Regions from separate parts of the Homo sapiens genome. Here all the other regions are linked to region 3. Evidence: fine-mapped expression QTL. A gene starts in region 3. Each other region holds a variant in brackets. All regions are shown on one strand. Distances are from middle to middle.

What was found. PIP is the estimated chance that this variant, and not a neighbour inherited with it, causes the effect.
Region 1: its variant is fine-mapped to the expression of TOP1MT in hypothalamus (GTEx, PIP 0.97).
Region 2: its variant is fine-mapped to the expression of TOP1MT in whole blood (TOPMed, PIP 0.95).
Region 4: its variant is fine-mapped to the expression of TOP1MT in whole blood (TOPMed, PIP 0.96).
Region 5: its variant is fine-mapped to the expression of TOP1MT in whole blood (TOPMed, PIP above 0.99).

The regions. Positions count from the first base shown.
Region 1 is chr8:143,285,203-143,290,302 of GRCh38, reverse strand. No RefSeq gene overlaps it. Among named protein-coding and RNA genes, the nearest start is that of ZNF696, 3.7 kb to the left of the region's middle. The variant A/G (reference allele first, on the strand shown) is at 2,000.
Region 2 is chr8:143,355,442-143,360,541 of GRCh38, reverse strand. It overlaps a transcript of TOP1MT not described here. Among named protein-coding and RNA genes, the nearest start is that of RHPN1-AS1, 11 kb to the left of the region's middle. The variant A/G (reference allele first, on the strand shown) is at 2,097.
Region 3 is chr8:143,332,451-143,337,550 of GRCh38, reverse strand. TOP1MT (DNA topoisomerase I mitochondrial) reads left to right here and starts at 2,671. Exons shown (of 14, transcript NM_052963.3): 1 at 2,671-2,811. The coding sequence starts at 2,690. RefSeq lists a silencer at 2,514-2,973 and enhancers at 3,174-3,223, 2,763-3,447.
Region 4 is chr8:143,369,968-143,375,067 of GRCh38, reverse strand. The region is part of intron 1 of RHPN1 (rhophilin Rho GTPase binding protein 1); the gene reads right to left. Among named protein-coding and RNA genes, the nearest start is that of RHPN1, 3.6 kb to the right of the region's middle. RefSeq lists enhancers at 4,124-5,030, 5,031-5,100. The variant G/A (reference allele first, on the strand shown) is at 2,457.
Region 5 is chr8:143,310,297-143,315,396 of GRCh38, reverse strand. All of the region lies in intron 12 of TOP1MT (DNA topoisomerase I mitochondrial), which reads left to right. Among named protein-coding and RNA genes, the nearest start is that of ZNF696, 21 kb to the right of the region's middle. The variant A/G (reference allele first, on the strand shown) is at 2,580.

The sequences.
Region 1 (5,100 bases), 47 kb after region 3:
AATCCCAGCACTTTGGGAGGCCAAGGCAGGAGGATTGTTTGAGTCCAGGAGTTTCAGACCAGCCTGAGCAACATAGTTAGAACCGTGTCGACTAAAAATTTTTTTTAAAAATTAGCCGGGCGTGGTGGCCGGCGCCTGTGGTACCAGCTACTCGGGAGGCTGAGGCGGGGGGACCACTTGAGCTCGGGAGGCGGAGGCTGCAGTGAGCCGAGATTGGCACTGCACTCCAGCCTGGGTGACAGAGATTCTGTCGCAAAACAAAAACAACAACAACAACACACACCACACACACACACATCTAAAAGAGATGATGTAGAAGTACAAGTAACCGTTTCCCTCTGCATCCCAGTGGAACGTCGTGGGTCTTCTGAAGACCCTCTCTTGCCCTGCAGGCTCCGGTACTCCAAGCACGCGAGTCTGCGCAGGAGGCGCTTCGCTCTCCGGAGCTCCCCACTGCCTCCTAGACACAGTCCCGGCTCCTTACCCCGGGCGGAGGCTCTTCCAGACGGGTCCCGACTGCCTCTGTATGCCCACTGCTGCCGTGCCAGAAGCCACTGCCCTCTCCTCGCCCCTTTCCAAATGTGCCCTGCCTCAGGCCCGTGTCATGCTGTTCCCTGTGCCGCTTTCGCCCGTCCCCTCACTCCCCGCCACCAGAACCGGGAAGGCGGTGCCCCCTTTCCAGGCCCAACTTCCGGCACTGAACCTCTAGGAGTCCGCAGCCTCCTCCGCCCGGGCCTCTCCCCGCTGGCTCAGACCGCAGGGCCAGCAGCCCCGCCCACACGGAAGCCCCGCCCATCAGGCCGACCCCGCCCCTCCTGCCTCGGCCCCGCCCTCGCCTTGGCCCCGCCTCCTCGCTGGCAGCCGGCAGGCGCAGTCGGGGTCGTGGGACCCAGGAGGGGCCTCCAGCAGGTGCCTTGGCGAAGATCCTGGACTGCGTCACAGCCCAGGGTAGCCGTCCCGCGGCCCGGCTTTGGAGCTTCCCACGGACACCCGGGGCTCTGCCTCCTCCGAAATCACCCCTCACCGCTTCCCTCCTGCTCTCCCACAATGGGAGGCCACACGCTGGGGCCCCTGAGAAACAGAATCGAAAACACAAGGCAGGACTCCAGGGACATGGGGGTGGGGGAGTGAATCCAAGCAACTCAGGACGCCCGCGAATAGCTCAGATCCTGCGAAGAGCCCGCGCCCTGGAATTCTGTTTGCTAAGGGGGTCCTCACGGTGTAGGGTGAGACAGAGAACCTCTGGGCAGTTGCAGGTGGTAAATGTCCATGATAAAGGGCAAGTTCACAGTCTAGAAAATTCTGGATTTCTTGATCCAAAAGTAGCCGAGTCCAGGCCGGAGAGGTGGCTCACGCCTGTAATCCCAGCACTCTGGGAGGCCAAGACAGGAGGATCACTCGAGGTCAGGAGTTCGAGACCAGCCTGGCCAACATAGTGAAACCCCATCTCCACCAAAAAAAAAATTACAAAAAATTAGCCAGGCATGTTGGTGCTTGCCTTAGTCCCAGCTACTCGGGAGGCTGGGGCAGGAGAATTGCTTGAATCCAGGAGGCGGAGGTTGCAGTAAGATTTCGCCACTGCACTCCACAGTGAGACTCCGTCTCAAAAAAAAAAAAAAAAAAAAAAAAAAAAAAAAAGTAGCTGAGTCTTAGAATACCACCCCTTCAAGGACTGTTTCCATGAGCCTATCCACTGAGTCTCTTACCTGCTACCCTGAAAAAAAAAAGTACGATGAAGAAATTACCAAAGGCACCCCTGAAAAACAAAGACAGCTGGGCCTGGCGCAGTGGCTCACTCCTGTCATCCCAGCACGTTGGGAGGCCGAGGCGGGTGGATCACCTGAGGTCAGGGGTTTGAGACCAGCCTGGCCAACACGGTGAAATTCCATCTCTACTAAAACTACAAAAATTAGCCGGGAGTGGTGGTGTTCGCCTGTAATCCCAGGTACTCGGGAGGCTGAGGCAGGAGAATCACTTGAGCCCGGGAGGTGGAGATTGC[A/G]GTGAGCTGAGATCACGCCATTGCACTCCAGCTTGGGTGACAGAGTGAGACCTGTGGGGAAAAGCAAGAGAGATCAGATTGTTACTGTGTCTGTGTAGAAAGAAGTAGACATAGGAGACACCATTTTGTTCTGTACTAAGAAAAATTCTTCTGCCTTGAGATTCTGTTAATCTATGACCTTACCCCCAACCCCGTGCTCTCTGAAACATGTGCTGTGTCAACTCAGGGTGAAATGGATTAAGGGCTGTGCAGGATGTGCTTTGTTAAACAGATGCTTGAAGGCAGCATGCTCCTTAAGAGTCATCACCACTCCCTAACCTCAAGTACCCAGGGACACAAATACTGCGGAAGGCCGCCGGGTCCTCTGCCTAGGAAAACCAGGTATTGTCCAGGGTTTCTCCCCATGTGACAGTCTGAAATATGGCCTCGTGGGAAGGGAAAGACCTGACCGTCCCCCAGCCTGACACCCGTAAAGGGTCTGTGCTGAGGAGGATTAGTAAAAGAGGAAGGAATGCCTCTTGCAGTTGAGACAAGAGGAAGGCATCTGTCTCCTGCCCGTCCCTGGGCAATGGAATGTCTCGGTATAAAACCCGATTGTACGTTCCATCTACTGAGATAGGGAAAAACCGCCTTAGGGCTGGAGGTGGGACATGCGGGCAGCAATACTGCTTTGTAAAGCATTGAGATGTTTATGTGTATGCATATCTAAAAGCACAGCACTTGATTCTTTACCTTGTCTATGATGCAAAGACCTTTGTTCACGTGTTTGTCTGCTGACCCTCTCCCCACTATTGTCTTGTGACCCTGACACATCCCCCTCTCGGAGAAACACCCACGAATGATCAATAAATACTAAGGGAACTCAGAGGCTGGCAGGATCCTCCATATGCTGAACGCTGGTTCCCTGGGTCCCCTTATTACTTTCTCTATACTTTGTGTCTTTTTCTTTTCCAAGTCTCTCGTTCCACCTAACGAGAAACACCCACAGGTGTGGAGGGGCAACCCACCCCTTCAAGACTCTGTCTCAAAACAAACCAATCAAACCAAACAAAACAAAAACAAACAAACAAAAAAAGACCTCAGAGAAAGAGGACTGTTGTTCAAAGAAGAGGCCGTGGGTCAACTGAAGCAAGTGGACACGCAGCCAGGAAACAGGTGACACAGAAAGGAAGGACTCCCAGTCTCCTGGCAGAAGGAGCAGGGGAGGCAGAGACCTCTGAGTTACCCCTGGAAGCCGAGGGCCTGACCCCCACAGCCGCAGGATGGAAATCCTGCCACGGCCCGAATGGTCAGGGAAGGACCTCAAGCTCCACAGGAGTTCGGAGACCAGGACAGCTTAATGGCAGCTCCAGGAGACCCTGGCAGAGACCTCAGCCAAGCTGTGCCGGGCTCCCGCGTGGCAGGATCTGTGAAGTAACAGACGGGTTTTTGGTGAGCAGGTTCCAGGTGAGACACACCAGTGGCCCTAAGAGGAGAAAATGCAAGGGTGGTAGGAAGTGGCGGGTGCACCAAGACCTAGCGGCCAGCCTGACCAGCACTGACTGGCACCTTGGTGCTGTGCAGTCAAGGAGAACTGGCTCAGGCTCAGGACATTCACTCCTGCTGCGCTGGGCACCAGGGACACCCCCGAAGGTGGACAGAGCACCACGGGGGCTGCCCTGGGAGCTCGCGAAAGAGAAGGGAGAAACACAGGCACAGCAGGCACCGCCTGCCAGGTGCCAGAAAGCAGCGCGTGGAGGCCTCATTAGAAGCAGAGAGCAGGGAGCAGTGACTCAAGCAGCACTGCCAGCGGGTCCTGAAGTGTGGGCAGGAGTTTGGGGAGGGCGCTGAGGTGGGGAGGCCGCTTGGCTCTCAGGGAACCCAGCCTTGTCGCACGGATGCTGGGCTTCCTACTCTGGGGTCCTTGTAGCCACTAGGGTGTTCTAACTCAGAAAAGACACCACAGGTTTGGGATTGGAAAAGGGCTTGAGAAGCACACAACCCCAGCAATAAAAATGGGGTCAGAGCAAACACTCAGAATGGGAAACCACACGCCGGCGCGGACGGGGCCAACAGACACACAGAACCACCCGGAGTGACCTCTAGCACATCGTGTGGAGCAAAAGGAGTGCCAGGAGGGCGGGCAGACGAATCCATTCCTGAGAGGCCCGATGGCAGACAGGGCCCTCCAGAAGCTAGAATACCCATCAGCTGGGGGAGGGGAAGGGAAAGGGAGGAGAAGCTCTGGAAAGTTCCATGCTGTGACCTGGGGGGATTAGCAAGAGTGTAAACATGTAAACAGTCAAGCCGAGTGCTTAAAATTTGGGCATTTTCGCTATGTAAATTATACCCTAATTCAAAAAAATCAAGAACACCATATCCCAGGAAAACTTAATATAAAATATTGACACCAGCACGGATCTTGGTGAAGCTATTCAAGGTTATGGATGAGGAAAGAATGACCAAGGCATCCAGGCAGAAGAGGAGCGTTTCAGAGAAAGGGCAGAGGCCAAGGGCTTCCCAGTGGTGCAGGCTCAGCACAGTCCTGCAAGGAAAAACCTAAAACCCAACCACATGCCCCAAGCCCTTGCTATTCGCCATGCCCTCCGTCGAGTGTAATGGCTACAGAGGGCATTCTAGAGCTTTCAGGAGCTCAGCATGCAGCCCCTCTTGCCTGCCCCCGTGGAGCCCTCTCCCCAGATGGGAGCTGGGCTCAGGGTCCTGCTGGATGGGCACATGGACCGAGGTCCTGGGAAGCCGCCTGCTCCCACTTGCATCCTGCCTGTTACTCTCGTCACCCAGACGCTGTTCACCCAGGCTCTGCAGCAGGCGCTGGGCTGGATGGTCTACCGTGTAAACGAGGGGATTTCCCATCCCACGGGCTGCTTGAGGAGCAGCAGCCTCACAGAATGGCCATGCACAGAGTGCAGGGCGGCAGGACGGGAAGGCCCTGCCTGGAGTCAGGCACACGAGTGCCACAGTAGTGGCATGATTTTGCCCACCTGAGACTCAAGGACTGGGACACCTGTCCCTCCTCCTCCACCCACGCTGCGGGGAACTGCATGGCTCCTCCGGGCGGGGACCATAGCTTTCCGCCTCAACGTACCTGGGGCTCGGCATGC
Region 2 (5,100 bases), 23 kb before region 3:
CACATCCGCTCAATTTTCCAGACTCAGCCTCTGGGATCTCACGTCACCCCAGACTCACGGACCCCGACATGGCGCATCCTGCACCCCACGGGTGTGGCCTGGCGGCCCTCCTCCTCCCAAGCACTATGTTCAGGCTGAGTGGAGACTCTCGCTAGCAATGTGCAGGCTGCTAAGCAGATGCGACCCGGTGACAGCTTGCACCTCAGGCCTTGCTCCTTGAGCTCCTTGCTCCATGAGCTTTTCTCAAAATACGATCCTCTTTATCTTCAGAGTCGCAGAAGCGCTGCAGGGACTGGCGAGACTCCACCACGTCGCGGAAGCCAACAGCACGTCGGCCCAGGAACGCCCCTCCACCCCGGCCGGCCGCCTCCCACCCCACCTCCTGGGTGCCCGTCAGCACCGCGGCCCACGGAGCGCGCGAGCCCAGGGGCCCAACCGAGCGCAGCCACCGGACGCCCCGCGTGGCCACCGCGTGGGCCTCTCCCGCGCCTGCGCAGCCCGCCCCCTTCCCGGCAGCACCGGCGGCGTCAAGGCAGGCACGTGGCGGCGGCTGCGCATGCGCGGGCTCGGGCCTTCCCGGCGTCTCCGCGCAGGCCTCGGGGAAGCGGGGTCCGGGGGAGCCGTGGTGCGGTGGGACCGCGTGGGTCCTGGAAGAGCTGCAGAGGAGGTGGGACTCGGCCTGAGGGCGCAGGGCCACCAGGAGGGAGGGGTCAGGCGGGGCCCTCAGTGGCCCTCTTCCTGTGGGTGACCCAGGTCGCGCTGTTGGTGACGACCTCCCACATCCCTCGCCTCTCCGCGACTCCTCCGTGTACCTCCCCCTCCGCGCACGACGCCACCAACGTGTCCCCTCCTCCTCTGTGTCCCCCCTCCGTGTGCTTCACCCCTCAGTGTTTCCTCCATCTCCATGGGCCCTCCTTTTGTGTCCCCCCTCCAGGCCCCCTTGTTCTCTTCCCCCTTCGCTTACCCCTCCCGCTCGGTGTCCTCTCCCCTGGCTGCCCCACCCCTCCTCATCGCTCCCTTGGCTCCTGACTTTCTGCTTGGGCCCTGCACCTGGCCAGCGGTGCCGGTCTGGCTGCCTAGGAAAAGGGTCTGGAAACGGCCGTCGCTGATGGGATTCCGCTCTGTCTTCTGCCCCAGAGTGACGGCTTTGGATGCGCTTTGCCCCAGGGCCTTTCTTCCCGGAGTTGGCCTTTTCCCTGCCCTTCTCTTCTCCTGGCGTGGTGACCTGCCTCCCTTCTCCTGGATCGCTTTGCTGGCAGCCACCTTGTAACACCTCAGGTTTGCAGCTGTTTTTTTTTCTTTTGGTCTGGCGCATCTAAAGCCATAAGCTCCCAGCTAAAACCCAAGAACAGGCTATTTTCAGGGGAGTCTCTATGCAGCATTCAAAATAGTCTACTTAAGGGCCGGTGCGGTGGCTCACACCTATAATCCCAGCGCTTTGGGAGACTGAGGCAGGAGGATCGTTTGAGCTCAGGGTTTGAGACCAGCCTGGGCAACATAGTGAGACCCTGTCTCTAAAAAAAAAACCAAAAAACAGAAAACAAAAAAAACGCTTTACTTAATAGTGATTTAAAAAACATGAACATGATGGCATATCACACCCAGGAATATGCTCCAGACCGGCTAATGGAAACTTTCTAGTGAGCCTGGTTGCGTAGTAATGGGGTCAGGAATAAGCACCATCCTTTGGTGGTTGGAGCCAACAGAGGCTCGTGGCCGGTTGCCTCTCCTGCCCTCTCAGCTGCTGCTGTGTTTTCGGTGTCACTCCAGCCGCAGGTGCAGCAGTGTCCCTGCTGCCTGGGTCCAGGCTCACCTCTGTGGAACGGTCCTGCTGCTCACCCCAGGGCCCTGGAGATGTGTGTGTTTTCTTGCAGGTGGGGACACTCAGTTGCAGATAGGTGATGGGAGACAGTCGGGGCCCAATTTGAAGCAGTTGCCAGTGGATGATAAAGTTGCTCTCAAGAGGTAGCAAATACTTTTGGGAAGCAGTGGCCTTTGCATGTTTATGATGATGGATTTTGTTGCTGGGGGTGCTTCACCTGCTTGCCCAGCTCTTGTAACATTCGGGTCTAACCTCATCACTACAATGGTAGAGA[A/G]TGGGGTGGAAGGAGCTGTCTGGGCTGTAGGTCCTGTCTGAACCACAGCCCAGGATCAGAACAGGGGAGGAATGGGAGGGGCGTGATGTCACTGCTTTCCTGTGAAGTTTATGTTTCTTCCTGTCAAAAACATCATTTTGGCACTGGTGTTGCCGTTTCTTCTTTGGAGTTACAGGAGCGTATTTCTTTGATTAAAGGAAGAGAGAGAGTACTGGGCAGATAAGGCTGGAAAATGCAAAGAAGCTCAAAGTGAAGAAGCCAAAGCATAAAAATCAGGGAAGACAGGGCGAAGACCAGGTTCCAGCCTTTTATTTACTGTGAATGTTTCATTTTTATTTATTTATATTATTACTTTTGTGTAGAGACAGAGTCTTGCTGTGTCACCCAGGTGGGAGTGCAGTGGTGATCATAGTTTACTATAACCTCAAACCCTTGGGCCCAAGTGATCCTCCGCCTCAGCCTCTCCAGTAGCTGGGACCACAGGCGTGTGCTACCATGCCCAGCTAATTTTTTTTTTTTTTTTTGAGACGGAGTTTCGCTCCTGTCACCCAGGCTGGAGTGCAATGGTGCAATCTTGGCTCACTGCAACCTCTGCCTCCCAGTTTCTAGCGATTCTCCTGCCTCAGCCTCCTGAGTAGCTGAGACTACAGTCGTGTGCCACCACACCCAGCTAATTTTGTATTTTTAGTAGATACGTGATTTCACCATGTTGGCCAGGCTGGTCTAGAACTCCTGACCTCAGGTGATCCGCCTGCTTCAGCCTCCTAAAGTGCTGGGATTACAGGCGTGAGCCACCGCACTTGGCCTAATGTTTTTATTTTTATTTTTGTAGAAACAAGGCCTGACTATGTTGCTCTGACTGATCTTGGACTCCTTGCCCCAAGCAGTCCCTGCCTCAGCCTCCCAAAGTGCTGGGATTACAGATGTGAATCACCACACCTGGCCTTAATGTTTCATTTTTAAACTCACAATCTTCAACATGTTCAATATGTTGTATTCTTAATTTTTGTTTTTACTCTCGAACTTTTTTTTTTTTTTTTGAGACAAGGTCTCACTCTGTCGCCCAGGAGTGCAGTGGTGATCATAGCTAACTGCAGCCTCAACCTCTTGGGCCCAAGTGATCCTCCCACCTCAGCCTCCTGAGTAGCTGGACTACTGGTGTGCACTATTGTGCTGGCTAATTCTTCTTTTTAATTTTTGTAGAGATGGGATCTCCCTATCTCCCTATGTTGCCCAGCCTAGTCTAGAACGCCTAGGCTCAAGAGATCCTCCTGCCTCAGCCTCCCAAAGTACTGGGATTACAAGTGTAAGCCACTGTGCTCAGCCTCATGAAGCTTTTTTTTTTTTTTTTTGAGATGGAGTCTCACTCTGTCGCCCAGGCTGGAGTGCAGTGGCACTATCTTGGCTCACTGCAAGCTCTGCCTCTCGGGTTCATACCATTCTCCTGCCTCAGCCTCCCGAGTAGCTAGGACTAAAGGCGCCCGCCACCACACCCATCTAATTTTTTCTATTTTTTAGTAGAGATGGAGTTTCACTGTGTTAGCCAGGATGGTCTTGATCTCCTGACCTTGTGATCCACCCTCCTCGGCCTCCCAAAGTGCTGGGATTACAGGCGTGAGCCACTGCATGTGGTCTTTTTTTTTTTTTTTTTTTTTTTTTTGAGACAGAGTCTCACTCTGTTGCCCAGGCTGGAGTTCAGTGGCGCGATCTCAGCTCACCACAACTTCTGCCTCCTGGGTTCAATCTATTCTCCTGCCTCAGCCTCCTGAGTAGCTGGGACTACAGGTGCATACCACCATGACTGGCTAATTTTAGTATTTTTAGTAGAGACGGGGTTTCACTATGTTGGCCAGGCTGGTCTCAAACTCCTGACCTTGTGATCCGCCCGCCTCAGCCTCCCGTAGTGCTGGGATTACAGGCGTGAGCCACTGCACCTGGATGAACCTTTTTGAAATGAGTATTTTACAAGTATAAAAAGCTTTTTTGATCATTTACTTAGATAAATTTAAAAATATGTACTTTGTGTTCACACAAGGTGCATTTATGTCAAATTTCAGAAGGGTTGGATCTGCTGCCAGCATGCTGCCTGGGTCGTGTGTAGGGTGTAGAAGGAGCTGGAGTTAGGTGTGGGGACTGCACGCTTGTCCATCCTGGGAGGGTTGGTTACTGGTTACCTGGAATCCTTTGACGGCTGCTGCCAGGCTTTGGTTGAACTGTAATGGCAAGCAGCCGTGGGCCGGGGAGTGAGTGGCCTGGGCCTGGCCGGCCCCATTCTCAGAGTTGTGTCTGTCTGCCCGCTGGCCACATGCAGGATGCTGTGGTGGGGTTCATCCTAGTGTTTTCACAGAAGTTCTGTTTATTATGACATGGAAATGTCCTCAACGTAACCCTGTTCTCTTGTGACTTATAGCAGTGCTTGAGGGAAGAAAATAAATTCTCCGTTTCAAAAGAAAATCCAGGGCGGGACAATCTTACTGTTGGGTAAGGTTTGTTCCCTTTATCCCTCTTCTAAGAGTGAGGTGAAATGGGGCAGTGAGGGAATGGGGGGAGCGAGGGCACAGGGTGAGATCAGCTTTCGTCCTGAGAGCCTGGCCTTTGCAGTGGAATTGGGACCTGCCTCGTGTTCTTTTTCCAGTCTTTGTTTCCGCTTGAGCGGAGTTAGGAATCCACAGGACTGTGGAGCAGGTTCGTAATGCGAGCCGCCTCTGACAGGTGCAGAGGTCCGGCTCTTGCACATTCGTGTCGGGGGCCCAGATGTAACAAGGGGGTCTGGCATCTCCCTCATGTGCCAGGGGCCCTTTCTGTTTGTTTTTGTTTTAGATAAATCATCTTGTCAGATTGTTACTGTGGTTAACAACCAGTGTGACCACATCTTTTTCAAAGATTAGAACCAAAAAAAAGTTGAAAGGCATTAGGCCTGCAGTCCTCACTCACCTTTCTCTCCCTCTGCTCTCTTCTCTCCTGCTTTCTTGTGTCAGATAATCATGTAAATAGCTTTCTGTGT
Region 3 (5,100 bases):
TTGTTTTGGCTATTCTGGGTCCCTTGTATTTCCCTGTGAATTTTAGGATCAGGTTGTCAATTTCTGTAAAAACGCCAGCTGGAATTTAGATGGGGATTGTATTGAGTTTTTGGATCAGTTTGGGGAGTATTGCCGTCTTTTTTTTTGAGACGGAGTCTTGCTCTGTTGCCCACGCTGGAGTGTAGTAGCGTGATCTCGGCTCACTGCAAGCTCTGCCTCCTGGGTTCACGCCATTCTCCTGCCTCAGCCTCCCAAATAGCTGGGACTACAGGCGCCTGCTATCATGCCAGGCTAATTTTTTTAGTAGAGACGTTTTAGCCAGGATGGTCTCGATCTGACCTCGTGATCCGCCCGTCTCGGCCTCCCAAAGTGCTGGGATTACAGGCGTGAGCCACTGCACCTGGCCAATGCTGTCTTAACCATATGAAATCATCCAGTCCGTGAACATGGGATGGCTGCTCATTTATTTAGGCTGTCTTTAATTTCTTTGGGCAATGTTTTACAGTTTTCAGAGTATAAGCTTGATACTTCCTTTGTTAAATTTATTGTGCAGTATTTTATTTTTTCATGCTATAATAAATTATTTTCTTAATTTCATTTTCAGTTTGCGTATGGCTACTGGTTAGAAATACAACTGATGTTTGCATATTGATCTTGTACCCTACAATTGTGCTGAATTCATCTATTAGCTCTACTAGTTTTTGTGGATTCTTTTTTAAATTTTATTTTCCATAGAGATAGGGTCTCACTATGTTGCCCAGGCTGGTCTTGAACTCCTTGGCTCAAGTGATCCACTTGCTTTGACCTCCCAAAGTGCTTGGATTACAGGCATGAGCTACGGTGCTCGGCCAATTTTTGTGGATTCTTTGGGATTTTCTATATACAAGATTATGCCACCTGCAAATAGACATAATTTACTTCTTTCTTTCTGATCTGGGTGTCTTATTTCATCTGCTTGCCTGTTTGCTCAGTTAGAGCCTCTGGTACCATGTTGAGAGGCAGTGGTGAGAGTGGACATCCTCGTCTTATTCTTCATTTCAGCAGGAGCGTCCAGTCTTTCTTCTGGCATATGAGGTTAGCTGCGGGGTTTTGTAGATGCTGCTTTTCAGGTTAAGTTTCTTTCTATTCTGTTCTTGAGTGGGTTTTCCATTCTGTTTATCATGAAATGGTGCTGGATTTGTCTGCTGCTTTTTCTGCATCTATTGAGAAATCTTAGGGTTTTTGTCCTGCCACACTCCCTCTTACAAAACCTGAGGAACCAACTGGGCATCGGCTCACACCTGAAATCCCAGCACTTTGGGAGGCCAAGGTACTTGAGCCCAGGAGTTCGAGACCAGCCGGGGCAACATAGGGAGACCCCATCTCTACAAAAAGTAAAAAACAAAAAATCAAAAACCCTTAGAAACCTGAACTGGAAAACACATTGACCTCAGGATTCCGTTGAAGGAATGGTGGGCCTGGGCCAAGGCCCTCTTCTGGTTTGTAGAAAGGGTTACCTGAAAAAATATGCATCACTGTTCCGCAGCCCCTGGGAGGAGGTGGCCCACCTGGAGAGTCAGCTGCTGTGTCCTGGTGTGTGTGTACCTTCAGCTGCTGAGCTGCTCATTCTGAAATGATGGGACACCTACCAGGTCTGCCTGGGCCCTAAGAGCGAGCAATTGCAGCCCTCGGCCTCTGCCCATGGCTTCCAGCAGCTAGATGACATGGACACTGAGTCAGTTGGTGGCAGGGGAGGGTCGCTGAGGGCGTGCGGTGGCAGCCCGGACTCCTTTCCTGCCTGTGTCCACTGCATTCCCCCCAACGGTCACAGTGAAAGTGCGGAATGCATGTGAATTCATCTGCTTCCCACGGTCCTGGTGTCAGGGTTTTACCGGGGAAGACCAAGGCTGCGGTGCTGCCAGAGGTGAGCGGTGTGGCCTGTTGTGGCTCAGGGCCTACCGCCAAGTGCTGATCTAGAGGTTTTGCCCCTTGGCCATGCTCCCCAGTGAAGACACTGGGGTTAAACCCTGGTCAGGGTCAGCAGTCACGCTGGGGACTGAGCGCAGGAAGGAGGCTCCAGCTGTGCCTGGTCTCTGGTCTCCTTGGGAGTGAGAGGCTGGTTGGCAGGGATGATTTCGCAGGACTTCCTGTGACCTTTGTCCAGAGGCACCACCTCTGAGGGGCTGCTGTGGGCTGGACAGCAGGTGCTTCTGCCGGTTTCTGCGTCCTGGAAGTGCTGCTGTTTGTAGGGGATGAGGTAGGGGGCCATCTGAGCCTGTGTGGTCCCTTCTCCAGAGCAGCAGAGCGTGTACTTAGGAAGGACCTGCTAGGTGCCCCTGCCCTCAGAGGCTCTGGGAGAGAGCTGTGTGCAAGCCCTGGGCAGGAGTTCACTGGCCTGGTCGTGTGACCTGTGGGGCATCCTGACAGCCAGCCCTGTGCTGCAGAGGTCAGTGGGACTGGGTTTGGATCTGGGTCCCCGCCCAGCGTGAAGGGGCGCTGGACCACGAAGGCAGGGAAACCAGGGGGAGGCCGGCAGGACAGTCAGTGGTCCTGCTGCCGCAGCCCCGTGCAGGCTTAGACCGCCCAGCCTTGGGATGAGCGCCGCTGGGGGCGGAGGCCGCGCTCGGGGGCGGGGCTGGCCGCTGGGGGCGGGGCGGGGCTGGCCGCTGGGGCGGGGCCCAGCTTGTCGCTCTTTCCCGGAGGCTGGCAGATGCGCGTGGTGCGGCTGCTGCGGCTCCGGGCGGCTCTGACGCTGCTCGGGGAGGTCCCCCGCCGCCCGGCCTCCCGGGGTGTCCCGGGCTCGCGCAGGACGCAGAAGGGCAGTGGAGCCAGGTAAGGTGTCCCAGTGAGCAGGCGGCGAGGGCCCTGAGCACCGGGCTTGGGTAGGTCCAGAAAGGGGAGTGGCAGGCCTCGTGGGACGGCCTTGCCCTGCTTCCGGTTTTCCCAAAAGTCGGGCCAGGAGAGCATGCGTGCCGCGGTGTGACCGGCCCGCCTCCTGCCCGGGGTGTACAGGCCCCCCCATGACGTCGCCCTTGCTTCCCCAGGCACCACCCCACCAACCCTATTTGGGGAAATCTCCCCTCTTTTTTTCCGCTTGTGGTTTCATCATTTGTGTAGCTGTGCCTGGGCCTCAACACTGTAGGGTTTGGTTAGGTACTTTATAAAAAGCTTATGTTGCTGTGCATGGTCTTCTGAGACCCGCTCTTTCCTGGAGTCGGTTCCCGGGTTGTCTCCAGGACCGATTCTGCATGGCGGCGGGCGCTCACTGTCATATCTACATCACCAGGCACAAGCCGCATGGATCCAGTGGCCCTGGTGGCCGTTGGTGGTCCCAGGCGCTTTCCTGGAGGACATGTGAGAAGCCCTGCCGGCGCATACTGGGCCTGGGGTAGCCGCATGGGGATGGGTCTCTGCGCATGAAATGCTGGAGTTTCCGAAGAGCTGGAGAGTTGACAGCCTCACTGGTGCGTGGGAGATCCTGCAGGAGTTCCCGCCAGGTCTCGCGGTTTATCATCATTCACTTAGTGCTTCCAGCGTGGCATGTCTCTGTGACCTGGTGGTGCGCTATCAGCATACCCATTCACAGCTGAGGGCCTGCACAGCTGCCTAAGGCCATGCTGCAGAAATGTCCTGTCTGCCTGCAGGAGCTTGGGACCCAAAGAGAGCCCCAGATGGGGCAGGGTGTCTTGGGAGGAGGGAGTTCTGGCCTGCGCTTGGAGCTGGGGCTGGCTGTGGGCCCTGCATTGAGGCACATCTCTCCGAGGGTGCACAGGCAGGTAGGTGCTTTCCAAAAAGTGCTGCTGAGCTGCAGTCGCCCAGGTGGACAGGTGGGTTTGGAGCAAGGTCTCTGGCTTTGAAAGCCAGCTTGTGTCTGATGGTGGTGCTTGGTGCCCTGGTCTCTGCAGGGGTGAAAGAATGTCACTACAATGTGCAGCCCTCAGTTGGGCTTGAGCGCACACCCAGTGGTGCAGCCCTGCCTGGCCGCTGGCCGGCAGGTTGTTTCACCTCAGTGTCTTCATCTGTGAAATGAGACTGGTGATGTGACTACCCTAGAGGCTTTGTGAAGGACTTGGCAGTCAGGGTCACTGTCAGTTCTTTATTTTTATTTTTATTATTATTATTTGAGACAAAATCTTGCCCTGTCACCCAGGCTGGAGTGCAGTGGTGCAATTTCAACTCACTGCAACCTCTGCCTCCTGGGTTCAAGTGATTCTCCTGCTTCAGCCTCCTTGAGTAGCTGGGATTACAGGCACCCGCCACCACGCCTAGCTAATTTTTGTATTTTTAGTAGAGACGGGGGTTTTGCCATGTTGGCCAGGCGGGTCTCGAACTCCTGGCCTCAAGTGATCCGCCCGCCTCGGCCTCCCAAAGTGCTGGTATTACAGGCGTGAGTCACCGCGCCTGGCTCCTATCAGTTAGTTCCGAGATACACGTGGTTTCCCATTTTCTCACACCCGACATGATCCATCTTCCCTTATTCTCTAAGAAGGCGTTGTCTAGGTTTGCATCCTTCAGGGCACTTAGTGGTGCAGCCTCCTACCAGCCCCACCCTAGACATGCTGTATCAGGGCTGGTGGGCTCTCTTGAACTCCTAAAACCTGTAAGAAAGGTGAGGCTGGTCTCACCTGACGTGGAAAAGCTCTGCAGAGTCAGCAGAACCCCCCTCTCCCCGAGTCTCCCTCCAGACTCCAGCTGCCTGCAGCATCTGCCAGCTAGTTTTTTTGTACTTTCGCCATGTTGGCCAGGCTGGCCTTGAGCTCCTGAGCCTGCCTCAGCCTCCCAAAGTGCTGGGATCACAGGCGTGAGCCACCACGCCCGGCTCCACCCTGGAAGGTTCTTGAGCCCGTTAACTTCTCCCTACTTTATCAGCTCCGTCTCTACGTCTTCTAACCTTGCCCATTCCCTCCTCTGCAGAAACAGCCAGAAAGGCCCTTTCAGAAATGTCTGTTGCACATGCTTTCCCCTCTCAGACCCTTCAGAGACTTCCTGTTGCTCTGAGGACACTCATCCCAGCCGACCAGGCCCACCAGGCCCCCAACAGCACTACCTGGCTGGGGTCACGTGCAGGTCTCCTGGCTCTGGCAGGTGGGGGTGTGATCTGGAACCTTCTGTCCTTGTGCG
Region 4 (5,100 bases), 38 kb before region 3:
CAAAGGACAGGGTCCCTGAGGCTCTGGGGGCGGCCACTGGCCCCCGATGGTTGGTGCAGAGGCTGCGGTCTGACTTTGGGAATGGTTCTCGAAGCGAACGCACACCCGTGCCCTCCCTATCCACAGAGAAATGACTCTGAGCCTTGCACCCAGACTGCAGCCCCGCGGCCCTGCCCAGCACCAGCCATGGCGAAAGAGTGGGGCGTGCCCAGCGGGGCCCCTTCTGGACTTTGATGGCTCCTGTGTCGTCAGTGGTGCCAGCGTGCTGGAGCTTACATTTCACTCTAGGGAGATCCAGTTTCATGCCTCAGCCCACCCCACCCTTGTGGTGTTGGGGTCCTGCCCACATGATCCTCACGTGTCCCTCCCTCTCACCATGGCCTCCCAACCCCCACTCTTCCCCGTGGCCATGTGGGAATGCCTGGGTCTCCACCCGGACAAGATTATTTGCAGCTACCTGTGGCTGTCCCCTGGGTGGGCTCCCAGGCGTGGGCTGGCTGGCTTGCCTCTCCAGCACCCACTCCTTCCATGCTTTGAGACCCACAGTGCTGCTCAGGGCTCACTGCTCAGGGACACTGACTCCCACCCAGCCCTGGGGCGAGCCTGGTCTGAGTCAGGCGTGGCCAACCTGGCCATTTCTGCCAGTCAGCAGCAAGACAAGGCCTCTGGTGGCTCCTGGGACTGCTTCCCGCCCTTGTCGGGAGACAGGACCTCTTCTTCCCCAGGACCTTGTGGCGTCTGAAGGTGAATCTTGCCACCATGAAACTGACCTACCACTGCATGAAGCTGCGGATTCATGGGGCCAACGTGCACACGCACTGGGTCTTCCCCTCTGTGGACCCGACACCCTCTCCACGCACACACGTCTCTCAGGCCTTCCCGTCTTCCCCGTAAAGAGCTCACACGTGTTTTCCTGGGTTTTCTCCTAGATATCTGGAGAGAGTTCTTTTTGCTAATGTGAACGAGATCTTTGTGTGCATTTTAATTAGTTTATTCCCATTATACAAGAAAGGTTTGATTTCCTAGACAGAAGGCCTGCTCGTCCAGCCCCCCAAAATCACAGCAGCCAGCTGAGCGGGTGACCATCTATTATGGGTGAATTGTGTCCCCACAAAAGACAGGTTCAAGTCCTGACTCCCAGTACCTGTGACTGCAATTTTTCTAGAAATAGGGTCTTTGCAGATATAATGAGTTAAGATGAGGCCACCCTGGAGTAGGGGGTCCTTAATCGCAGTGACAAGGGTCCTTATACGAGGTGGGGAATTTGAACACAGTCACATGGAGGTGGCCATGGGAAGGCAGAGACAGAGACTGGAGGATGAGGCACCGTCCCCTGGAACCCACGCCATCCCCCAAATCCCCGCCCCGTCCCCTGGAACCCGCGCCATCCCCAAACCCCCACACCGTCCCCTGGAACCCACACCATCCCCCAAATCCCCGCCCCGTCCCCTGGAACCCGCGCCATCCCCAAACCCCCACACCGTCCCCTGGAACCCACGCCATCCCCCAAATCCCCGCCCCGTCCCCTGGAACCCACACCATCCCCCAAGCCCCCGCCCCGTCCCCTGGAACCCGCGCCATCCCCAAACCCCCACACCGTCCCCTGGAACCCGCGCCATCCCCAAACCCCCACACCGTCCCCTGGAACCCACGCCATCCCCAAACCCCCACACCGTCCCCTGGAACCCACACCATCCCCCAAGCCCCCGCCCCGTCCCCTGGAACCCGCGCCATCCCCAAACCCCCACACCGTCCCCTGGAACCCACGCCATCCCCAAACCCCCACACCATCCCCTGGAACCCGCGCCATCCCCAAACCCCCACACCGTCCCCTGGAACCCACACCATCCCCCAAGCCCCCGCACCATCCCCTGGAACCCACGCCATCCCCCAAGCCCCTGCACCATCCCCTGGAACCCACGCCATCCCCAAACCCCCACACCGTCCCCTGGAACCCACACCATCCCCCAAGCCCCCGCACCGTCCCCTGGAACCCACGCCATCCCCAAACCCCCGCACCGTCCCCTGGAACCCACGCCATCCCCAAACCCCCACACCATCCCCTGGAACCCGCGCCATCCCCAAACCCCCACACCGTCCCCTGGAACCCGCGCCATCCCCAAACCCCCACACCGTCCCCTGGAACCCACACCATCCCCCAAGCCCCTGCACCATCCCCTGGAACCCACGCCATCCCCCAAACCCCCGCATTGTCCCCCAGACACCTGTGCCATCCCCCAAACCCCTGCGCCATCTGCTGGACACCCACGCCATCCCCCAGACACCTGTACCATCCCCCAAACCCCTGTACTGTCTGCTGGACACCCGCACCATCCCCTGGACACCCAGGCCGGCAGCCTCCTGCTGAGTGCTGGGGTGAGGGAGCCTGACGGAGGTCCCTGAACTGAAGATGAGTTGGCGCTTAGGGGCCGGAGGGAGGGACACAGGCGGCCGGA[G/A]GGATGGACACAGGCAGCTGGAGGGAGGGACACAGGCAGCCGGAAGGAGGGTGTGCCGGCCCAGGACCCTGGCCTCCCCCAGCCCAGCCCTGCCCCCGTGGACACCACCCAGCAGCGGACGGGCCGATGTGCACTTGGGAACCCTCACCCTGCTCCCGTTTCTCACTCCCGCCTCCTCCAGAAAAGAAATTCCCTCCAGAGCTGCTTCAGGGACTCGGGCTGGAGAGGCCCACAGGTGGGAGAGGGGCATGGGCGCCTCAGATCTGAGAAGCTCCCTGAACCTGAGGCCCGCCCACCCCCGCCTCCCATCCCTACCTTTCCCACCGGCGCTACCACCTCGAGGGCCTCTGCCCAGTACCTAGGAGACCCCCGTGCCACCCACCGCAGCTACACCCCCTCCCCGCAAAGGCCCCGCTGCAAGGCTCCAGCAGCTTTAAGGGCTCTGGCTGTGCGACGGGCATCAGACACCCAGCCAGGTCCCTGCTCCCCTCCTGGCCCCAGGAGAGCTGCGGGGAGCCTGGCCCCTTGGAGCCCCACAGGCACCTGCTGTGGGCCTGGTCCATTCCTCGGCCTCCCTACCCGCAGTGCTCCCTGCAGGCCAAGTGACTTCCCGGCCTACAGGCGGAGGAGCAGACCCGAGCCGGACCTTTGAGGCTGGGTAGACCTTGGAGGTGGGCGGCCCATGCCCCACTTTCCACACTGGGTTGAAGGTTGAGCCCAGTGGAAGGGGCATAGACACAGGCGTTCAGGCCCCTACTCCTGCTACAACCTCCCCACCCTCTGGAGACAAAGGTGACCTGGAGCTCCCCACCCCCACGTCCACGGTGCCCTGACACCCCACTGTGGCCATTTCCGCCTTGCATTAGGAAAGGACAGAGAGGCTGTGGTCTGTGGGGGTCCCGAGAGGCAGCCACACATGAAGGGCCTGGCCATGCCTCGATGGAGAGGGACGAAGAACAGAGAAACAGCCCCCCAACCCTGACACTGGGGCTCCTCTGCCCAGGAGGAAACAGTGTGGCCCTGGCCAGAGTGGGGCTGACCTGGGGACGGGCAAAAGGCAGAGATAGTTATCCCAGCCCAGGTCTGGGAACAGCAAAACATCAGAGCAGGGCCAGACCTCCACTCTCCCCCAGGATCCCCTGGCCCTGGGCCAGGCAGTCCCCAGGGAGAGGTCACCCACCTGGAGCAAACCAGCTTTTTCCCTTCAGAGCCCTGGCCCTGGGCACCCTGTATGCTGACAGCCACCCATCTCAGGTACCCCTCTCCTCTGCCCCCACTGAAGTCTCACCTGAATGCAAGAACTGGAAGCCCCAGGAGGGTGGAAGCCCAGCACCCACCTGACCCACCATCTCTGCCCCCCACTGATGAGGGAACAGAATTCAAAGGGCATTGCTGCACAGGTGTCTCCTGGGACACAGGGCTATAAGCAGCACGCACGCCAGAGGAATCATAGACTGGCCACTCACGGCAGGGACTCCCACTCTCTCTGATGCTCCCTGGGGTACCCAGGCACTGGTGCTTCCTGAGCACCCCTCTTCCTGGAGCCCAATCTACCTGGGCAGGGGCCTGGGAACCTGTAACCAGCACCCAGAGGGTGCTCCTGTCCAGCCAGGCTGGGGAACCTCAGGCTGACCCACTCGGCATGCTGGAGACCAGGTGAGGGGGGCACAGCCACCCTGCCCACCTGCTGCTCCAACGCTCTCCCTCTGCAGCCTGCTCCCCCTTCTCCCACTGGCCTCCCCAGGAAACCACAGAACCTTCTGCATACAGCCAGGCTGTATTCCTTGTGGTCCTCCCCCGGGAGCCCCTGCAGCCCCTGCGGGAGGGACGGCAGCTGGGTTGGCCACCCTGGGCCGTGCCAGGCTTCTCCCCTTCCCAGCTTGGCAGCCTTGGCCACTTACTCACCCTGTTCATCAGACGGGCTGAGGCCCAGGGCTTGGGAGGCACCAATGGCAGGACTCCAGCTGTAGCACTGGCCCTGGCACCAGGTAAGCGCTTGCTGGAAGCCTGCTCTCATCACGCCTGGGGCAAATACAAGTCACCCAGACCTGTCCACAGGGCCTCAGGCCCAGGTGTGGCCTCTAAGTGGATGAACGACCGACCCCTGACCCACTGAACTCTGAGCTTTAGGGCCAGTTTGGGGGCCAGCCTGATGGGGGTGGAACAGGCCTCACTCTAGCCCGGCAGCAGGCATCGGGGAAGACTTTCCAGATGGCAGGACAGCCTGAGTGGTGCGCGTGTGACACAGGGCCTGCCTCCGCCCCACTGCCACCTCCCACGGGCCCCTCCCCAGTACCCTGACTGTGGGGTCATTTCTGGACGCTGTGAGAGACACGGCAGCCTGGAAACAGCTTCTCCCCAACTTTCCAAGGTGGCAGCCCAGGGAGGGCCAGGACAGGGAGCCCAGGCACAGCCCCCAGCCTGAAAAGCGTCACCTCCGGAGCCCTCTGGGACATCTTGTTTGTACAGCCTCCCAAACATTCCACCCAAAACAACATGTGCCGTCCCAGGCCACCTGCAGGCATGGCCGCCCTGACAGAGCAAGTTCATAGGGGGCAGGCACAGGCTGCCTCTTTCCCTCCAGTGCCCAGGAGGTGCTGCAGCCTCTGGCACGCCTCGGGGTGGGCAAGAAGGGCGTCCTTGA
Region 5 (5,100 bases), 22 kb after region 3:
GCCCTTCCCTGTTTGGCAGCCGAGGCAGAGAGAGAGAGAACAGTTTACGCCATTATTTCTGCATATCAGAGACTTTTAGTACTTTCACTAATTTTCTACTGCTATCTAGAAGGCAGAGCCAGGTGTACAGGATGGAACATGAAGGCAGACTAGGAGCATGACCACTGAAGCACAGCATCACAGGGAGACGGTTAGGCCTCCGGATAACTGCGGGCGAGCCTGACTGATGTCAGGCCCTCCACAAGAGGTGGAGGAGTAGAGTCTTCTCTAAACTCCCCTGGGGAAAGGGAGACTCCCTTTCCCGGTCTGCTAAGTGGCAGGTGTTTTTCCTTGACACTGATGCTACCGCTAGACCATGGTTGGCCTGGCAATAGGCATCTTCCCAGACGCTGGCGTTACCGCTAGACCAAGGAGCCCTCTGGTGGCCCTGTCTGGGCATAACAGAAGGCTCGCACTCTTGTCTTCTGGTTACTCCTCACTATGTCCCCTCATATCTCTGTATGGCCTGGTTTTTCCTAGGCTATGATTGTAGAGCGAGGATTATTATAATATTGGAAAAAAGAGTAATTGCTACCAACTAATGATTAATGATATTCATATATAATCATATCTATGATCTATATATAGTATAACTATTCTTATGTATTTTATTATACTGGAACAGCTCGTGCCCTCAGTCTCTTGCCTCAGCACCTAGGTAGCTGCCGCCCACACCAACCCAGATGTGGCAGCTTCAGACGCGCCTTCCCATGGCCAGTTTTGTTTTCCTCTTCAATTGTTATTTTGTGATTTTTTTTTTTTTTTTTTTGAGATGGAGTCTCTGTCGCCAGGCTGGAGTGCGCTGGCGCGGTCTCAGCTCACTGCAACCTCCGCCTCCCGGGTTCAAGTGATTCTCCTGCCTCAGCCTCCCGAGTAGCTGGGGTTACAGGTGCGCGCCACCACGCCCGGCTCATTTATTTATTTAGTAGAAACGGGGTTTCTCCATGTTGGCCAGGCTGGTCAAACTCCTGGCCTCAAGTGATCCTCCTGCCTTGGCATCTCAAAGTGCTGGGATTACAGGCATGAGCCACTGCACCTGGCCAACTTTGTGATTTTTAAAAATACAAACTATATGCCTTGTGGACAAGAGTGGGACACATGGAGCCGTGGGAGGAGGAGACCCTGGCCGCCAAGGAGGTTTGTGATTGTCATTGTGGGGTCAGGAAATGAGAAGAAGGTGCCAGACTCTTCTCCAGGGCGGCGGCACCATCCCCTCCCCACCAGCAGTGTGTGAGGGCTCCGATTCCTCTGTCCAGGCGCCACTGTAGGGTCAGTTTTCCATGTGTCGATTAGAGCCCAGTGGGTGTGAAGGAGCGTCTGGCCGTGGGTGCTCTTTGCAGGTGCTTGTTGCCCACTTCTGTATCGTCTCTGGAGAATGACTGCTCAGGTCCTCTGTCCATTTTCCAGTCGGGTTGTTGTTTTATTATTGACTTGTAAGAGCTCGTCGATGTTTCGCCCACTCTTGGGTTGTCTTTGTTCTTTCTTTTTTTTTTTTTTCCTTTGGAGACAGAGCATTGCTCTGTCGCCAAGGCTGGAGTGCAATGGCATGATCTCGGCTCACTGCAATCTCTGCCTCCAGGTTTCAAGCAATTCTCCTGCCTCAGCCTCCTGAGTAGCTGGGATTACAGGCACCCGCCACCATGCCCGGCTAATTTTTTTGTATTTTAGTAGAGACGGGGTTTCACCATGTTGCCCAGGCTGGTCTTGAACTCCTGAGCTCAGGCAATCTGCCTGTCTCGGCCTCCCAAAGTGCTGGGATTACAGGTGTGAGTCACTACTCCCAGCCCTATTTTTTTTTTTTTTTTTTGGTGATGGAGTCTTGCTCTGTCACCCAGGCTAGAGTGCAGTGGCGTGATCTTGGCTTACTGCAACCTCTGCCTCCTGGGTTCAAGCGATTCTCCTGCCTCAGCCTCCCGAGTAGCTGAGACTACAGACACACACCACTATACCTGGCTAATTTTTGTATTTTAGTACAGATGGGGTTTCACCATGTCGGTCAGGCTGGTCTTGAACTCCTGACCTCGGGTGATCCACCCACCTCGGCCTCCCAAAGTGCTGGGATTACAGGTGTGAGCAACTGCGCCCGGCCACATCTTTCTTCTTTCTTGTTGGTGTCCTGTGACACATTTAAGATTTGGATGAGTCAGCGTGCTGAGAAGGCTTTGCCTAACCCAAGGCCATGAAGATAGATTTCTCTGTTTTCTCCTAAGAGGTTTATTGGTTTACTCTTACATTTAGGTCATTGGTTCTGAGTTAATTTTTGTGTGTGGTCTGAGGGAAGGGCCCAGGGTCATTCTCTTGCATGTGGACAGCCAGATGTCTCAGCATCCTAGCTCACCATAGTCTCAACTTGCTGGGCTCAAGCAATCCTCCCGCCTCAGCCTCCTGAGTAGCTGGGACCACAGGTGCCAACGGCCACAACTGGCTAATTTTTACACTAAGAAAATTTTTGTATGTTGCCCAAGCTACTCTTGAACTCCTGGCTTTAAGCAATCCTGCCTTGGCCTCCCAGAGCTCTGAGATTAAAAGTATGAGCCAAC[A/G]TGCCTGGCCCTTAGGACTGTATCTATAAAGGCCATATTGTATGCAAACAGAGATAGTTTTACTTTTTCTTTTCCAATCATATGCCTTTTATTTCATATTTTTGCATTATGGACCTGGCAGGAATCTCCAGTACACTGGACATGAGTGGGCAGCCTTGCCTTGTTCCTGATACTGGGGGCAAAACTCTCATGCTTTTATCATGGAATATGATGTTAACTGTAGGTTTTTCACAGAAGCTGTTTGTTAAGTTAACAAAATTTACTTCTATTCCTAGTTTGTTGAGGTTCTTTTTTTTTTATCATGAAGAGCATTGGATTTTGTCAAATGATTTTCTGCACCTGTTGAGATCTTGTTTTTGTCCCTTCCTTATATTGATAGGATGTATTATACTAATTGATCAGATATGAAACCATCCTTGCATTCCTGGGATAAATCCTACTTGAGCAATTGTGTAATCATTTTTGTCTATTGCTGGATTCAGTTTGCTGATATTTTGTTGAGGTTTTTGCATCTGTATTCATGAGCATGTTAGTCTATAGTTTTCTTATGATGTCATTGATTTTGGTATCAAGGTAATACTGGTAACGAGTTGAATAATATTTAATATAATATCTAATATTTCATGAAAGTTTATGAAAAATTGGTGCCTTTTTAAAGAGAGAGTCTTGCTGTGTTGCTCAGGCTGGTCTTGAACTCCTGGGCTCAAGCAGTCCTCCGAACTCAGCCTCCTGAATAGCTGAGACTATAGGCTTGCACTGCACTGCCTGGCTAGGGTCAGTTTGTTAAATGAATTCACCAGTGAAACCATCTAGGCCTGGGCTTTTCTTTGGGAGACGTTTAAAGTTACTGATATAATCACTTGTTATAGTTCTATTCATATTTTCTATACTTTGTGAGTTGGTTCTGGTAGTTTGTATCTTTCTGGGAATTTGTTTAGTCTAGGGTGTCTAACTGGCTGGTGCCCAGTTATTCATAGTATTCCCATATTATCTTTTTTATTTCTTTAGTGATGTTCCCTCTTTCATTCATTCCTCATTATTGTGGCTGCGGTTCTTTTTTTTTTTTTTTTGACACAGAGTCTCTCACTCTGTTGCCCAGGCTGGAGTGCAGTGGCATGATCTCAGCTCACCACAACCTCTGCCTCCCGGGTTCAAACTATTTTCCTGCCTCAGCCTCCTGAGTAGCTGGGATTACAGGTGCACGGCACCATGCCTGGCTAATTTTTGTATTTTTAGTAGAGACGGAGTTTCACCATGTTAGCCAGGATGGTCTCAATCTCCTGACCTCGTGATCCACCCGCCTCGGCCTCCCACAGTGCTGGGATTACAGGCGTGAGCCACTGCTCCTGGCCTGGCTGTGGTTCTTAAAGGGTAAAAGTTTTCTCTTCAGGATGAGCATCCGGAGATGCAGGGGTCTGTTTTTAATGGTGGCGTGTGCGAAGGAAATGTCAATTGGAACAAAGGGTATTCAGTGAAAAATAAGGCTGTGACTCACCCCTGACCTCCTGTCCCCAGAGGCAGCTGCTGTAAAATTTCTTTAGCATTTCCTGGCCAGGCAAGGTTGCTCATGCCTGTAATCCCAACACTCTGGGCAGCCGAGGCAGGCAGATCACTTGAGGTTGGGAGTTTGAGACCATCATGGCCAACATGGTGAAACCCTGTCTCTGCTAAAAATACAAAAAAAAAAAAAAAAAAAAAAATCATGTGCGTGGTGGCACATGCCTGTAGTCCCAGCTACTCAGGAGGCAGGAGATTCACTTGAACCCGGGAGGCAGAGGTTCCAGTGAGCTGAGATCATGCAACTGCACTCCAGCCTGGGTGACAAAGCAAGACTCCGTCTCAAAAAAAAAAAAAAAAAGCCAAGAGAAATTTCTTAAGCATTTCCAGAAGGACTGTGTGTGCGTGCTGGCTCTTCCTCTGTTTTCCCTCCTTGTTTTCACATAAATAGCAGCCCCTCATGTGTCCCTCGGCCCCTGGGGATGTGGCTCATGCTGGGAAGGCACTTCCCCGGACCTATGCTTCTGGCCCGGCGGGCTGCCCCATTCTCAGCCGTATTTTTGCAGGCGCAAGTTTGTCTTTCCACGCACATTCGAGTGTTTGTGGCACAAATTCCTAGAAGAGTTGGGGTCAGAGGTTGCATGTGTGGGTGATGTTCTGGCATTGGAGGGTGCAAGTAATGTGGAAAGGGCATCTCTGTGCTGAAATTTGCTTTCCCTAAGGAGGCAGGAAGGAGGGCTTAGCGGCTTCCCGGAGGTTAAAGGACATTTGTGTTTGCTTTCTCGGGCCTGGTCTCGCTGCCCTCATCCTGTTTGGGCCGGCCTCAGTCTGTTGTGTCGAGCATCTCACCCTCCTGCGAGTCAGGTCCTGACGGGCTGCTCACCCTCCGCCCACGGCCCTCCTCTGTATCTGACTTGGCAGCTGGGGTGGGGCTGAGCTTCCACCTTTGATCCCGGCTGGTCTTTTGCTGTGATGGATGACTGATGACAATGACAGGGACAGGGCTGCACTGGGAGGGAAGGCG